Homo sapiens: one gene and its partner. The protein of the gene in region 2 interacts with the protein of the main gene of each other region in a pairwise test. Each region holds a gene or a part of one and is shown on either strand. Other genes may lie near its edges.

Region 1 (7,030 bases), on a different chromosome or scaffold from region 2:
ATCTTATGTCTCTCCAGGCCCTAGATTAGTGGTCATCTTTCAGAGAATGGCTAGAACTCGAGTCTTCTGGGATAGCCTACTAACACGCTTTACCATTGAGGAGTGTCTTCAAAACTCACATCATCTGAATTGCCATGCGTCTCTATATGTGAAAAGTAATTGGAAAGTGTTTCTTGTAGGGGGAAATGTTTTAGGGTTGTTGGGTATCAGTCCTAGAGCTGATTTATGTATATTTTCAACTTAAAAATTATTCCATAGAAATATTTGTGTTGCCGCAGGGGTTGTTAGCTGGGAACCCCAGTGTGTTCTGCTTTGCCTTTCACCCTGTCACAGGGGTTTTCACCTTGACGGCACACTAGATTCACCCAGAAGCTTTTAAAAATGGCAGCACATGGACTGCATCTCAAGAACTTCTCATTTTGGTTGACAGGGGCAGGGTAGAGACGTCACAATATTTTAAAAGCTCCCCAGCCGATTCTAATATGTGCCATGGGTGAAGCTCTAATGCATTCCAAATTGTTAGGAGGAGTAAACAGTTTAGAGAAGAGGTTGGTACCAGTGTGAAGAAGCATATAGAAGCAGAGCAATGCTTCCATAGGATTCTTGACTTTGTCACCCTGACTGCCTTGACCTGGTCACGGCTATGTAAGGCTGACCCTTAACTTGATGTGTAGCTGTGAACCCAACAGTTATGAGCACAAAGATAGTAAACTGAGGCCAGTAGGAGTGCCCAGTTCGGGTTGACTCCTGTGCTAGTTCAAGACAAAAATTTCCTAAATATATATGACGTTGGTTTGATACAGAACCAGCTTTTCTGTTTTCCTGTCCCCATTTAAAAATCTCCTATGTCAATTATACTAGTCTAAAAGACTCCTAGGCCTAATCTGTCTGATAAATTTCTGACGATCTTATTTCTGAGTCAGTCTCACCAACGTCTCTATACATTAATTAACATTATATACATACTCTTGATAACTTTAATAGTTAATATCTATTCTTTTCAGCAAGTTAAGCCCCAAATATTTTTTATTTCTATTTTAGATTTTGGGGGAGGGTTTGTGTATGTAGTGAAGGATCCCCAGTGACTTTCAGTTTTTATACAAGAAATCATTAATAAAGCTAAGAAATTAACTTAGCACATTCTGTTCATCTCTTGTATCAAGTGCAGTTTGTGATCATGTTGTTTTTGTCTAAAAACTTATTTGTAAATTTTTACAGTTCTAAGAATGTATTTTGTGCAATCATAAAGGTTTTATATTAATATATAAGTTATATAATTCACTCTGAAATATCTCAAAGCAAATATTTCTGAAATAAGTAAAATAGTGGTTCTCAAAGTTTTTGGTCATTACATACCTTTACATTCTTAAAAATCATTAGGGACCCCAAAAAACTTGTTTGTGGGTTTATATATTTTGATATTTACTATATTAGAAATTAAAACTGAGAAAATATATATTCATTCAAAAATAATACATTTTAACATAAGTAGCATTTTTTAGTGAAAATACCTATTTTCTATAAACCCTCCAAGTTAATAAGAATAGTGGCATTGTTTTACACATTTACAAATCTCTAATACCAAGCTTAATAGAAGACAGCTGGTTCTCATCTGTGTTTGCATTCTAACTGTTGTGCTATCACACATCATGTAGCCTTTGGAAAATTCCACTATACACATGGGAGAATGAGAATGAAAAAGGCAAATAAATCCTACTAGTATTGAGAAAGGAACTGTAACCTCAAAGACCCTCTGAAAGCGTCTTTGAGAACTACCTTATGCACTTTGAGAACTACTGGTGAATTATTTAATGATGAGGGAACTTTGAGAAAAAGAACTCTGAAGTTCCTGAATTTGAAGATTATTTTACCTTTAGTGGACAAAAGAGTAAATATAAGAGAATGTGACAGTTTGTGTCTGTAGATAGTATTTCCTTTGCAAATTTATCATTTTGAAGGATTTCATTACTACTGAAAAAGTGCAGAACATTTTGGGAGTAAGAATGCTCAATTTCATTTAGCCTTTTAATATCACATAAATTTTTCTTGTATAGGGTTATGATATATTCTCTGATTTGCTTTTTCAAAGCCATACTGCTGTAACTTTTAATTTTCTAATTTCTAGTAGAGACTAAGTCATTTGACAAAGTGAGAATTAAAACTAATAGCTGAATTCCTTCTCTTCTAGCCCTTCGCCACAAGAAGATGGGCAGATCATGTTTGATGTGGAAATGCACACCAGCAGGGACCATAGCTCTCAGGTGTGTCGGGGGGATTCTGATTTACAGTAAACAATTAAGAAAGATGTAAATTCTCTAAGTATATTTTGCTAAAATAAATGTGAAGACTTTTAGGAATAGTTTGAAGCTATTATTGAGTTTCTGATTTTGGAATTTATTTAGGATGATATAGTTCTTGTCGCACTCCTTTACAACTAAGGATTTTGGGCCCTGTCACTCTAAACGAATTGGAAAATTCTTGTCCATAATAAATCATGCCAATACTCCAGGCTAGTTTCTTGAGTGTATAAGTAGAAAAAGACTGAGATAGATGCTTTAAGACCACAGAATAGGGAGGAGCCAAGATGGCTGAATAGGAACAGCTCCGGTCTACAGCTCCCAGCATGAGCGACGCAGAAGACGGGTGATTTCTGCATTTCCATCTGAGGTACCGGGTTCATCTCACTAGGGAGTGCCAGACAGTGGGCGCAGGCCAGTGGGTGCGCGCACCGTGCGCGAGCCGAAGCAGGGCGAGGCATTGCCTCACCTGGGAAGCGCAAGGGGTCAGGGAGTTCCCTTTCCGAGTCAAAGAAAGGGGTGACGGACGCACCTGGAAAATCGGGTCACTCCCACCCGAATATTGTGCTTTTCAGACCGGCTTAAAAAACGGCGCACCACGAGACTATATCCCACACCTGGCTCGGAGGGTCCTATGCCCACGGAATCTCGCTGATTGCTAGCACAGCAGTCTGAGATCAAACTGCAAGGCGGCAGCGAGGCTGGGGGAGGGGCGCCCGCCATTGCCCAGGCTTGCTTAGGTAAACAGAGCAGCCGGGAAGCTCGAACTGGGTGGAGCCCACCACAGCTCAAGGAGGCCTGCCTGCCTCTGTAGGCTCCACCTCTGGGGGCAGGGCACAGACAAACAAAAAGACAGCAGTAACCTCTGCAGACTTAAATGTCCCTGTCTGACAGCTTTGAAGAGAGCAGTGGTTCTCCCAGCACGCAGCTGGAGATCTGAGAACGGGCAGACTGCCTCCTCAAGTGGGTCCCTGACCCCTGACCCCCGAGCAGCCTAACTGGGAGGCACCCCCCAGCAGGGGCACACTGACACCTCACACGGCAGGGTATTCCAACAGACCTGCAGCTGAGGGTCCTGTCTGTTAGAAGGAAAACTAACAAACAGAAAGGACATCCACACCGAAAACCCATCTGTACATCACCATCATCAAAGACCAAAAGTAGATAAAACCACAAAGATGGGGAAAAAACAGAACAGAAAAACTGGAAACTCTAAAACACAGAGCGCCTCTCCTCCTCCAAAGGAACGCAGTTCCTCACCAGCAACGGAACAAAGCTGGATGGAGAATGATTTTGACGAGCTGAGAGAAGAAGGCTTCAGACGATCAAATTAGAGTGAGCTACGGGAGGACATTCAAACCAAAGGCAAAGAAGTTGAAAACTGAAAAAAATTTAGAAGAATGTATAACTAGAATAACCAATACAGAGAAGTGCTTAAAGGAGCTGATGGAGCTGAAAACCAAGGCTCGAGAACTACGTGAAGAATGCAGAAGCCTCAGGAGCCGATGCGATCAACTGGAAGAAAGGGTATCAGCAATGGAAGATGAAATGAATGAAATGAAGCAAGAAGGGAAGTTTAGAGAAAAAAGAATAAAAAGAAATGAGCAAAGCCTCCAAGAAATATGGGACTATGTGAAAAGACCAAATCTACGTCTGATTGGTGTACCTGAAAGTGATGCGGAGAATGGAACCAAGTTGGAAAACACTCTGCAGGATATTATCCAGGAGAACTTCCCCAATCTAGCAAGGCAGGCCAACGTTCAGATTCAGGAAATACAGAGAACGCCACAAAGATACTCCTCGAGAAGAGCAACTCCAAGACACATAATTGTCAGATTCACCAAAGTTGAAATGAAGGAAAAAATGTTAAGGGCAGCCAGAGAGAAAGGTCGGGTTACCCTCAAAGGGAAGCCCATCAGACTAACAGCGGATCTCTTGGCAGAAACCCTACAAGCCAGAAGAGAGTGGGGGCCAATATTCAACATTCTTAAAGAAAAGAATTTTCAACCCAGAATTTCATATCCAGCCAAACTAAGCTTCATAAGTGAAGGAGAAATAAAATACTTTACAGACAAGCAAATGCTGACCGATTTTGTCACCACCAGGCCTGCCCTAAAAGAGCTCCTGAAGGAAGCGCTAAACATGGAAAGGAACAACCGGTACCAGCTGCTGCAAAATCATGCCAAAATGTAAAGACCATCGAGACTAGGAAGAAACTGCATCAACTAACGAGCAAAATCACCAGCTAACATCATAATGACAGGATCAAATTCACACATAACAATATTAACTTTAAATGTAAGTGGACTAAATTCTGCAATTAAAAGACACAGACTGGCAAATTGGATAAAGAGTCAAGACCCATCAGTGTGCTGTATTCAGGAAACCCATCTCACGTGCAGAGACACACATAGGCTCAAAATAAAAGGATGGAGGAAGATCTACCAAGCAAATGGAAAACAAAAAAAGGCAGGGGTTGCAATCCTAGTCTCTGATAAAACAGACTTTAAACCAACAAAGATCAAAAGAGACAAAGAAGGCCATTACATAATGGTAAAGGGATCAATTCAACAAGAGGAGCTAACTATCCTAAATATATATGCACCCAATACAGGAGCACCCAGATTCATAAAGCAAGTCCTGAGTGACCTACAAAGAGACTTAGACTCCCACACATTAATAATGGGAGACTTTAACACCCCACTGTCAATATTAGACAGATCAACAAGACAGAAAGTCAACAAGGATACCCAGGAATTGAACTCAGCTCTGCACCAAGCAGACCTAATAGACGTCTACAGAACTCTCCACCCCAAATCAACAGAATATACATTTTTTTCAGCACCACACCACACCTATTCCAAAATTGACCACATAGTTGGAAGTAAAGCTCTCCTCAGCAAATGTAAAAGAACAGAAATTATAACAAACTATCTCTCAGACCACAGTGCAATCAAACTAGAACTCAGGATTAAGAATCTCACTCAAAGCCGCTCAACTACATGGAAACTGAACAACCTGCTCCTGAATGACTACTGGGTACATAACGAAATGAAGGCAGAAATAAAGATGTTCTTTGAAACCAACGAGAACAAAGACACAACATACCAGAATCTCTGGGACGCATTCAAAGCAGTGTGTAGAGGGAAATTTATAGCACTAAATGCCCACAAGAGAAAGCAGGAAAGATCCAAAATTGACACCCTAGCATCACAATTAAAAGAACTAGAAAAGCAAGAGCAAACACATTCAAAAGCTAGCAGAAGGCAAGAAATAACTAAAATCAGAGCAGAACTGAAGGAAATAGAGACACAAAAAACCCTTCAAAAAATCAATGAATCCAGGAGCTGGTTTTTTGAAAGGATCAACAAAATTGATAGACCGCTAGCAAGACTAATAAAGAAAAAAAGAGAGAAGAATCAAATAGACAAAAAATGATACTACAAACACCTCTACGCAAATAAACTAGAAAATCTGGAAGAAATGGATACATTCCTCGACACATACACTCTCCCAAGACTAAACCAGGAAGAAGTTGAATCTCTGAATAGACCAATAACAGGAGCTGAAATTGTGGCAATAATCAATAGTTTACCAACCAAGAAGAGTCCAGGACCAGATGGATTCACAGCCGAATTCTACCAGAGGTACAAGGAGGAACTGGTACCATTCCTTCTGAAACTATTCCAATCAATAGAAAAAGAGGGAATCCTCTGTAACTCATTTTATGAGGCCAGCATCATTCTGATACCAAAGCCGGGCAGAGACACAACCAAAAAAGAGAATTTTAGACCAATATCCTTGATGAACATTGATGCAAAAATCCTCAATAAAATACTGGCAAACCGAATCCAGCAGCACATCAAAAAGCTTATCCACCATGATCAAGTGGGCTTCATCCCTGGGATGCAAGGCTGGTTCAATATACACAAATCAATAAATGTAATCCAGCATATAAACAGAGCCAAAGACAAAAACCACATGATTATCTCAATAGATGCAGAAAAAGCCTTTGACAAAATTCAACAACCCTTCATGCTAAAAACTCTCAATAAATTAGGTATTGATGGGACGTATTTCAAAATAATAAGAGCTATCTATGACAAACCCACAGCCAATATCATACTGAATGGGCAAAAACTGGAAGCATTCCCTTTGAAAACTGGCACAAGACAGGGATGCCCTCTCTCACCGCTCCTATTCAACATAGTGTTGGAAGTTCTGGCCAGGGCAATCAGGCAGGAGAAGGAAATAAAGGGTATTCAATTAGGAAAAGAGGAAGTCAAATTGTCCCTGTTTGCAGATGACATGATTGTTTATCTAGAAAACCCCATTTTCTCAGCCCAAAATCTCCTTAAGCTGATAAGCAACTTCAGCAAAGTCTCAGGATACAAAATCAATGTACAAAAATCACAAGCATTCCTATACACCAACAAGAGACAAACAGCCAAATCATGAGTGAACTCCCATTCACAATTGCTTCAAAGAGAATAAAATACCTAGGAATCCAACTTACAAGGGATGTGAAGGACCTCTTCAAGGAGAACTACAAACCACTGCTCAAGGAAATAAAAGAGGATACAAAGAAATGGAAGAACATTCCATGCTCATGGGTAGGAAGAATCAATATCGTGAAAATGGCCATACTGCCCAAGATAATTTACAGATTCAGTGCCATCCCCATCAAGCTACCAATGACTTTCTTCACAGAATTGGAAAAAACTACTTTAAAG
Region 2 (7,030 bases):
GACTTGTTTTTAATACAATGGACAGCTGGACAAAGTGTGTTGTCCTACTCAGAGCCAGAGGGATGGATAATGTGACCTTTCCATCAATCTGGATAGTAAATAGTTTTTGCTACTGCTGTAGGTTTTCTAATAAATTGCCCAATAGGCAAGATTCCAAAGTCACTTTGTCCTTCCCTACCACTTACCCAGCCAGAGCTCCCCACCTTCTTGATGCTCCAGGGAAGAGGCTCCATGGCCCTTGTGGGTGGCCTGTTCCTGAGCCTCGCCACCCTGTGTTAGAGCAGAGCATCCAGATGAAATCTGTCACACTGTGGCAAAGTGGCTCAGAGAGGAGGCTGGCTTCCTAGCATTCAGGGACGTTGCTGAGGGCCGCTTATTCACCGAAAATAAATCTTGAAAAGGACAGGGCTGGTAGCAGAATGATCCTTTACCTAAAATTCTATCAAAATCCCATTCTTCCATTTGGAAAGCCCACAGTGTCACAGACTCTGTTCCGGGCTCTGTCCTCTTCCCTCTTGGGTCCCAGGAGCCCAGGCTGGGCTTTGAAGCAGGCAGGGCCCAGCACACAGTAGGTACTCAGCAGTGGGGGTGTTGAATCCAATCAAACGGAAGTGTCAATGCAGGAAATGCAATGGATGTCAATGCAGTCTCCAAATGTTCCCCACTGTGCAGCTTCCACATTCCCGAGGTATTGGGAGGGGACTTGAATTAACAGCTTCGGGAGGCCTGAGTCCCTGCCTCCCAGCTGAGGAAGAAGCTTAAATCACAGGGCGCTGTGTCTGTCTTCCAGGCCCTGTCTCTCAGGCTCCCTGGTCTCCCTGCACTGTCTTGGTGAGTACCCCCAATCTCTGAGGGTTTGGGGCCTGGGCCAGCAATGAGCAGGGAGGAAGACCTTCATCTTCACTCCTAAATTTCTGGGACTCCAAGTTTCATTCTGCCTTGGTCTACAGCCCTTGGGCTTGTCGGTCAATGCCCCCTCGAGTTGTTGGTGGCCTTGGGCAGGTCACATTCTTTTTCTGGGTCTTTCCAAGCCCCAGTTTCCCCCTTCTACCATCTGTGCATGGCTCCATGACCTAAGTGGAGACCTGGGAGAGAGTGTTAGGAAGACCGAAAAGGGCAGGACGGGGCCTCCACTGCCTCCCATCCCTGGTCCGGGCCCACATAGCCTTCTTTGTCACAATCAGCTCAGGTATCCAAGATCAGATTACCCACATTCATTATTTGAGCAACTATTCATTGAACAGTTAGAATATGTCTCACTCTGTCAGTTGCTGGCTAGAAGTAGAAAGTACCAGATGAGTGAAATAATTGGCCACTATCCTTGGTAGCTGATGACTAAGTAAGAGAGAGATGCAAGACAACATGTGGAAAATGCCAAACTGAGTAGCAGTCACAGTTGACATGCTGCAGAGAGAGCTGGCCGGGGGTCAGAAGACCTGGGCACCAGTCCTGTTCATTTCCAGTGTGGCCTCGAGTCATTCACCTGACCTCCCTGAAGTTCATTTTCCCAAGAAGTTGTTTAGTCCAACTGCCCATCAAGGATCTTTAGGGACCCTTCTAGCTCTAACAGAGGAGATCAGAAAAGAAAACAAGCAATGTGGCTCAGCTCATCCTACAAGCTTCATAGAGAACTGAGACTGGCCTGGAAGCATAGCCAGAAATTAGAACGCCTAAGGGAAGAAGGTCACAACGCTGCCTCTGCAATTTAGGAGTGTATATGCTTTCCTGCAGGATGTTGAGAGTTTCATTCATTATCGTATGCCCCCTACCCCGGCCCCACAATACCTAGTGCGTGGGATCTGACACGTGGTGGCTGGTCAATGAATGAATGAATGAATGGTCACACCATCTGAGGTTCTGCACTGAGTAGCCCTGAAGGCTTGAAGCAGCATAAGTGACAGGTCCTCCCTTGAGGGGCCTCTGTTTTACCAATAAGCCAAGACCTAAGCTCAACAACACTGAAAGGGTGGCCAATACCCAGGACAGCCTGTGGGAATTCCAGAGAAAGGGAGATTCCCAGGGACTGGGGGCCCAGGCTAAACACTGAAAAATGCATCTGTAGGCTCAAGGAGGAAAAGCCCATGTCTGTCTGTCTTGCCCACCACTCTCTCCCAGCACCCAGCACTGCCCCAGGACAGAGAGCACTTGACACAAGTTGGTTAGATTAATGAATGATTTAGAGTTCAGTGGTCCCCAACCTTTTTGGCACAAGAGACTGGTTGCATGGAAGACAATTTTTCCGCAAACCAAGAGGGGGATAGAGAGCATTAGATTCTCTCTTTTTTTTTTTTTTGAGACCAAGTCTGGCTCTTGTCACTCAGCCTGGAGTAAAGTGTTGCGATCTCGGCTCACTGCAACCTCCGCCTCCTGGATTCAAGCGATTCTCCTGCCTCAGCCCCCTAAATAGCTGGGATTACAGGCACCCGTCACCAGCCCAGCTGGGACTATAGGCATGTGCCACCATGCCCGGCTAATTTTTGTATTTTTAGTAGAGACGGCGTTTCACCATGTTGGCCAGGCTAGTCTCGAACTCCTGACCTCAGGTGATCTGCCCGCCTGAGCCTCCCAAAGTGCTGGGATTACAGGCATGAGCTGCCTCACCCAGCCTAAAGTCTCATAAGGAACGTACAGCATAGATCCCTCACATGTGCAGTTCACAATAAGGTTGTGCTCCTACAAGAATCTAACGCCACCTCTGATCTGACAGGAGGTGAAGCTCAGGTGGTCATGCTCGCTTGTCCCTGCCACTCACTTCCTAATGTACAGCCAGGTTCCTAACAGGCCACGAACCAGTGGGAAGGGCATCTTTTTGGATCAAAAACAGAATTACTTTTTAGAGAACTACAAGCAGATCAATTTGGCTAGACAGAGACTTTATATGAAACAGCAGGAGGCTGCTAGGAGGAGTGGAAACTCTACTTTGCCCTCAAGGGAGATCCCGAAGGGCTTTGCAGGAGCGGGCAAGGTGGCATGAAGAAAGCAGTGTTTGAAATCAGGTGGTATTTGAAAAGCCCAGCCCTTCCCCTTAGAATGGCCCTTCTACCATCTGTGCATGGCTCCACAACCGTGGTGGTGGCTGCCAGAAGAATTGGAAAGGCAGAGCATGGGTGGAGAGGGGGGACCTGAGGGCTTTACAGGAGTTCCGGGGGTGGTGAGGGTGTGAAAGCCAGGTCAGTCAGTAGGAAGACAGGATGTCAGATTGAGAGACTCCCCTGGCCGGGGAAACAGACTTGGAGAAGGGGGAGTTTTGGATGAGACAGTCCACTTCCGAGTCACAAAATAGCTTGTGGGTGTCTGTTTACTGTTACTCAGTGGGAGTGGCTGGGGACACGCCACCTGGGCAGGGCTTTCGTAATTCTGCATCACTTGTGAAGGTCACAGATTCCCAGCACAACGGACACACCCATGTTCATAGTCTGAACTCCTAAACACATCTTAAACCAAAATAAAAAAAAAAGAAAGAAAGAAAGAAAAAGGAGAGGGAGGTTTGAGGAAAGCCTATGGTCTGGGACACTCAATACCTCCCATGAATATCTCATATTGGGCTGGTCCTCTCTCCACTCTGGCCCCAGCCATAAGGGCCCTGCTTAGAGCAGATTTTGGGTGCTGAGTGGAGGCAGCCTCATCCCCAACAGCCTGACTTCCTGCCTCCTCCCTGCCTCTGCCTGTGTCCAGCCTGTGGGAAGAGCCTGAAGACCCCCCGTGTGGTGGGTGTGGAGGAGGCCTCTGTGGATTCTTGGCCTTGGCAGGTCAGCATCCAGTACGACAAACAGCACGTCTGTGGAGGGAGCATCCTGGACCCCCACTGGGTCCTCACGGCAGCCCACTGCTTCAGGTAAGACCCCAGCTGTAAGGAGGTCTCTGGGGACCAAGGCCAGTCAGGGACCAGAGAGCTTGGGGTCCTGTCTCCTGGCACCGTCCTTCTCTTCACTCTCCCACTAGAGACGTTTTCCAGGTTGTGGTGGCCCCAATGAGACAATGGCCATGATGCCCTTTGTTAGGCTTTTGGGTGTCTGAGCAGAGGGTGCTGGTCACCAAGCATGGCCTCTTCCTGGTGGGACACCAGCAGATACCCAGAGTCCTCACCCCACCCCCATATCGTTCAAGCTACAAAAGCTCTTCCCACCTGCCTCAACTTCCAAGAACTCACTCTCTTTTTGCTTGTTTCCAGGAAGTTGTTCCAGGGTCTAGAGTCATAGCCACGTCCTCATTATGTCTGGAAACTTTAAAAAAATTAAAGAGCATAGGTTCCTTTCAGTCCACAGAGAAGCCTGGCCTTACCTCAGGGAAGGGCTACTCCCAGACCCCCTTCACTTTTTTTTTTTTTTTTTTTTTTTTTTTTTTTGAGACAGAGTCTTGCTCTGTTGCTTAGGCTGGAGCGCAGCAGCATGATCTTGGCTCACTGCAACCTCCGCCTCCTGAGTTCAAGCAATTCTCCTGCCTCAGCTTCCCAAGTAGCTGGGACTATAGGCATGGGCCACCATGCCCGGCTAATTTTTGTATTTTTGGTAGAGACAGGGTTTCACCATGTTGGCCAGGCTGATCTCTAACTCCTGACCTCAAGTGATCTGCCCACCTCAGCCTCCCAAACTGCTGGGATTACAGGCATGAGCCAGGGCATCCGGCTTTTATTTATTCATTCATTCAATATCTAATGAGCACCTACCAGGTACCAAACACCAGATGATGCGCCCAAGTTCATTAGACCCCACCGCTGTCTTCAAGGCACTCATGATCTAGGCCAGCGTTTTTTAACCACTTTTTTTTTTTTTTTTTTTGAGATTCTGGTGAGAGCTATAAATTCTTTCCTGGAAAAACATCTCTGCACACTAAGCTGTGCCTGGCATTGGGAAAAAGAAAGCACGTAATGTAACTGACAGCATGAGTAACACAGTGAGAAAGGTTGGAGGAGAGAGCGCCAGGACCTCAGAACTCAGGCATTAGAGGAGCCCCTTCCCCAGCCCTCCTTGAGGTTTCGTTGGGCAGGTTTCACTGAGGAAAAAGGGTCAAATCCCTTTTTCGAATTTGACTTCTTGTAAGTGCCAGAAGACTGCCCCTTCTCCACCATCCCTGCCTCACCATCATCTTTCCTCCCAAGGCAGTGACATCCAGCACCCCGATCCCTAGGGCCCTGGGGACCCAGCCTTTGGCAAAGTCTCCTCAGGCTTGGATCAGGCCTGAACCCAGCTGTCTCTACCCCCAGGAAACATACCGATGTGTTCAACTGGAAGGTGCGGGCAGGCTCAGACAAACTGGGCAGCTTCCCATCCCTGGCTGTGGCCAAGATCATCATCATTGAATTCAACCCCATGTACCCCAAAGACAATGACATCGCCCTCATGAAGCTGCAGTTCCCACTCACTTTCTCAGGTGAGAAGCAGGGCCCAAGGCCACTCAAGCCTCTTACATCAGTTTTCACGCCCACTCTGCTATTAGCTCACTGACCGCCCTTGGCACATAATGTCTCCTCTCAAGTCCTCAGCTTGCCCATTTGTCTCTAATACGTCAGCCTAACATCACTGATGCCATGAGGCCTCCTCAAGCTGTCAGCTAACACCTCCACTCCATTCCCTGCCAGAGATTCTTCCAAGGCCTGTCTTCCCTATGTGGAGCCCCTCGAGTGAGAACTGGAGTTTCATCCAATCTTGGAGTTTTAGGAGACCTTTTAAAAAGATTATCGAGCTAATTCCCCACCACTGACCAACACGCAAGAGCCTGCTCAGTATCCCTGCCAAGGAGTCATTGTGCCCCTGTTTGCTCTCCTCCAGGGGCAGGGAACCCATTACCTGTGAGGCAGCCCACAGAGTCTTTGAACAGCTCTGTTGGATGCCTTGTGCTTATACTGAAATGTATTTAGATCAGGATTCCCAACTGTGGGGTCCACAAGACACTGGCCCCTTGGAGAAGAGAGGATTCCATTGTCAAATAAGTTTGGGGAACATTTTCATACTACAGCTCCCTTCTTGGAACACATTAGTTTATTAAAGGTAGGAGAAGTTTTTAAAATAATCTGTTTTATTGCGTTTAACCTACATTTTTTAAATTTATTTGACCACAGAATCCTTTTTTCATGCTACTTCTATTAGCATCCCATAGAACAAGTGTTCTAGAGACCCTGGTGTGACCCCTTTCAGAGAGCTTAACTGCCAGGCTCTCCTGAGCCCTGGTGTGTGTTTCAAGATTTGTGCCTGGGAATTGTTTTAATCAGGTATGGCAAGGTGACAGATACAGACACAGCTATCTTTGAAAGAAGAGTTTATTATTTATAATTCCTGAGAGAAAGGGACATACCCCACCCCCCAACACAGGGACACCCGGGGAAGCAGCTGGGTCCACCAGGAGGCAGGAGTGAGGGGAAGGCATGGCCCAGAGCCACCTGTGGCTTCCATGGGCAGGTCTGGCCAAGGTAGGGTAGGCAAGATTGAGCATGCTCAGGATTGGATAGTGTGGACAATTCTCTAGGCTATAGATGTCAGCCTCTGGTTGTCTAGTATCTGTCCCTGGGGTGATTTAGGGCAGGGAAAATATTGGCTTGGTGTCTGAGAGTCAGATAAAGGAAGTGGTTGGGGATATGGGCTTTGGGTTGGCTGGTTTGCCTATTAAAGGCGTGCCCAAAGCCAAGTTGTTTACTATCTGCAGGAATTAGCTAACCCAGTCTCTCCCAGACCAGCAAGATCCCCATAATCATAAAGCATCATAATTTACAGAAAATTAACACTTATGATGAATAAAAGATCTCCTTCTTCCTCTGTGCTCCTGGCAGGCACAGTCAGGCCCATCTGTCTGCCCTTCTTTGATGAGGAGCTCACTCCAGCCACCCCACTCTGGATCATTGGATGGGGCTTTACGAAGCAGAATGGAGGTAAGTCCTGGGTGCAGGACCACAGGGCAGGAGATGCCCTTGTATGAGGGAGCAGCTTCCAGAAGTAATGGGAAGGAGGACCACCCTTCAGAGAAACCCATCCTGGAGGACCAAGCACCAAGGCGCCAGGCAGAAAGCAAAGTGGTTTGGCAATCCAGGGCTGGGGGA

What was found. Proteins that work in one complex are often made in the same cells at the same time.
Region 1: the proteins of TMPRSS4 (region 2) and BNIP3L interact in binary tests that used the Homo sapiens proteins (3 or more experiments, as listed by UniProt).

Annotation. Positions count from the first base shown.
Region 1 is NC_000008.11:26,393,042-26,400,071, forward strand, and holds part of BNIP3L (BCL2/adenovirus E1B 19 kDa protein-interacting protein 3-like), read left to right. Parts: intron 1-2,188; coding exon 2,189-2,261; intron 2,262-7,030.
Region 2 is NC_000011.10:118,108,066-118,115,095, forward strand, and holds part of TMPRSS4 (transmembrane protease serine 4), read left to right. Parts: intron 1-790; coding exon 791-831; intron 832-1,986; coding exon of another isoform or gene 1,987-2,168; exon of another isoform or gene 2,169-2,332; intron 2,333-3,675; coding exon 3,676-3,835; intron 3,836-5,203; coding exon 5,204-5,370; intron 5,371-5,857; coding exon of another isoform or gene 5,858-5,985; exon of another isoform or gene 5,986-6,000; intron 6,001-6,763; coding exon 6,764-6,862; intron 6,863-7,030. UniProt on the Homo sapiens protein: Plasma membrane-anchored serine protease that directly induces processing of pro-uPA/PLAU into the active form through proteolytic activity.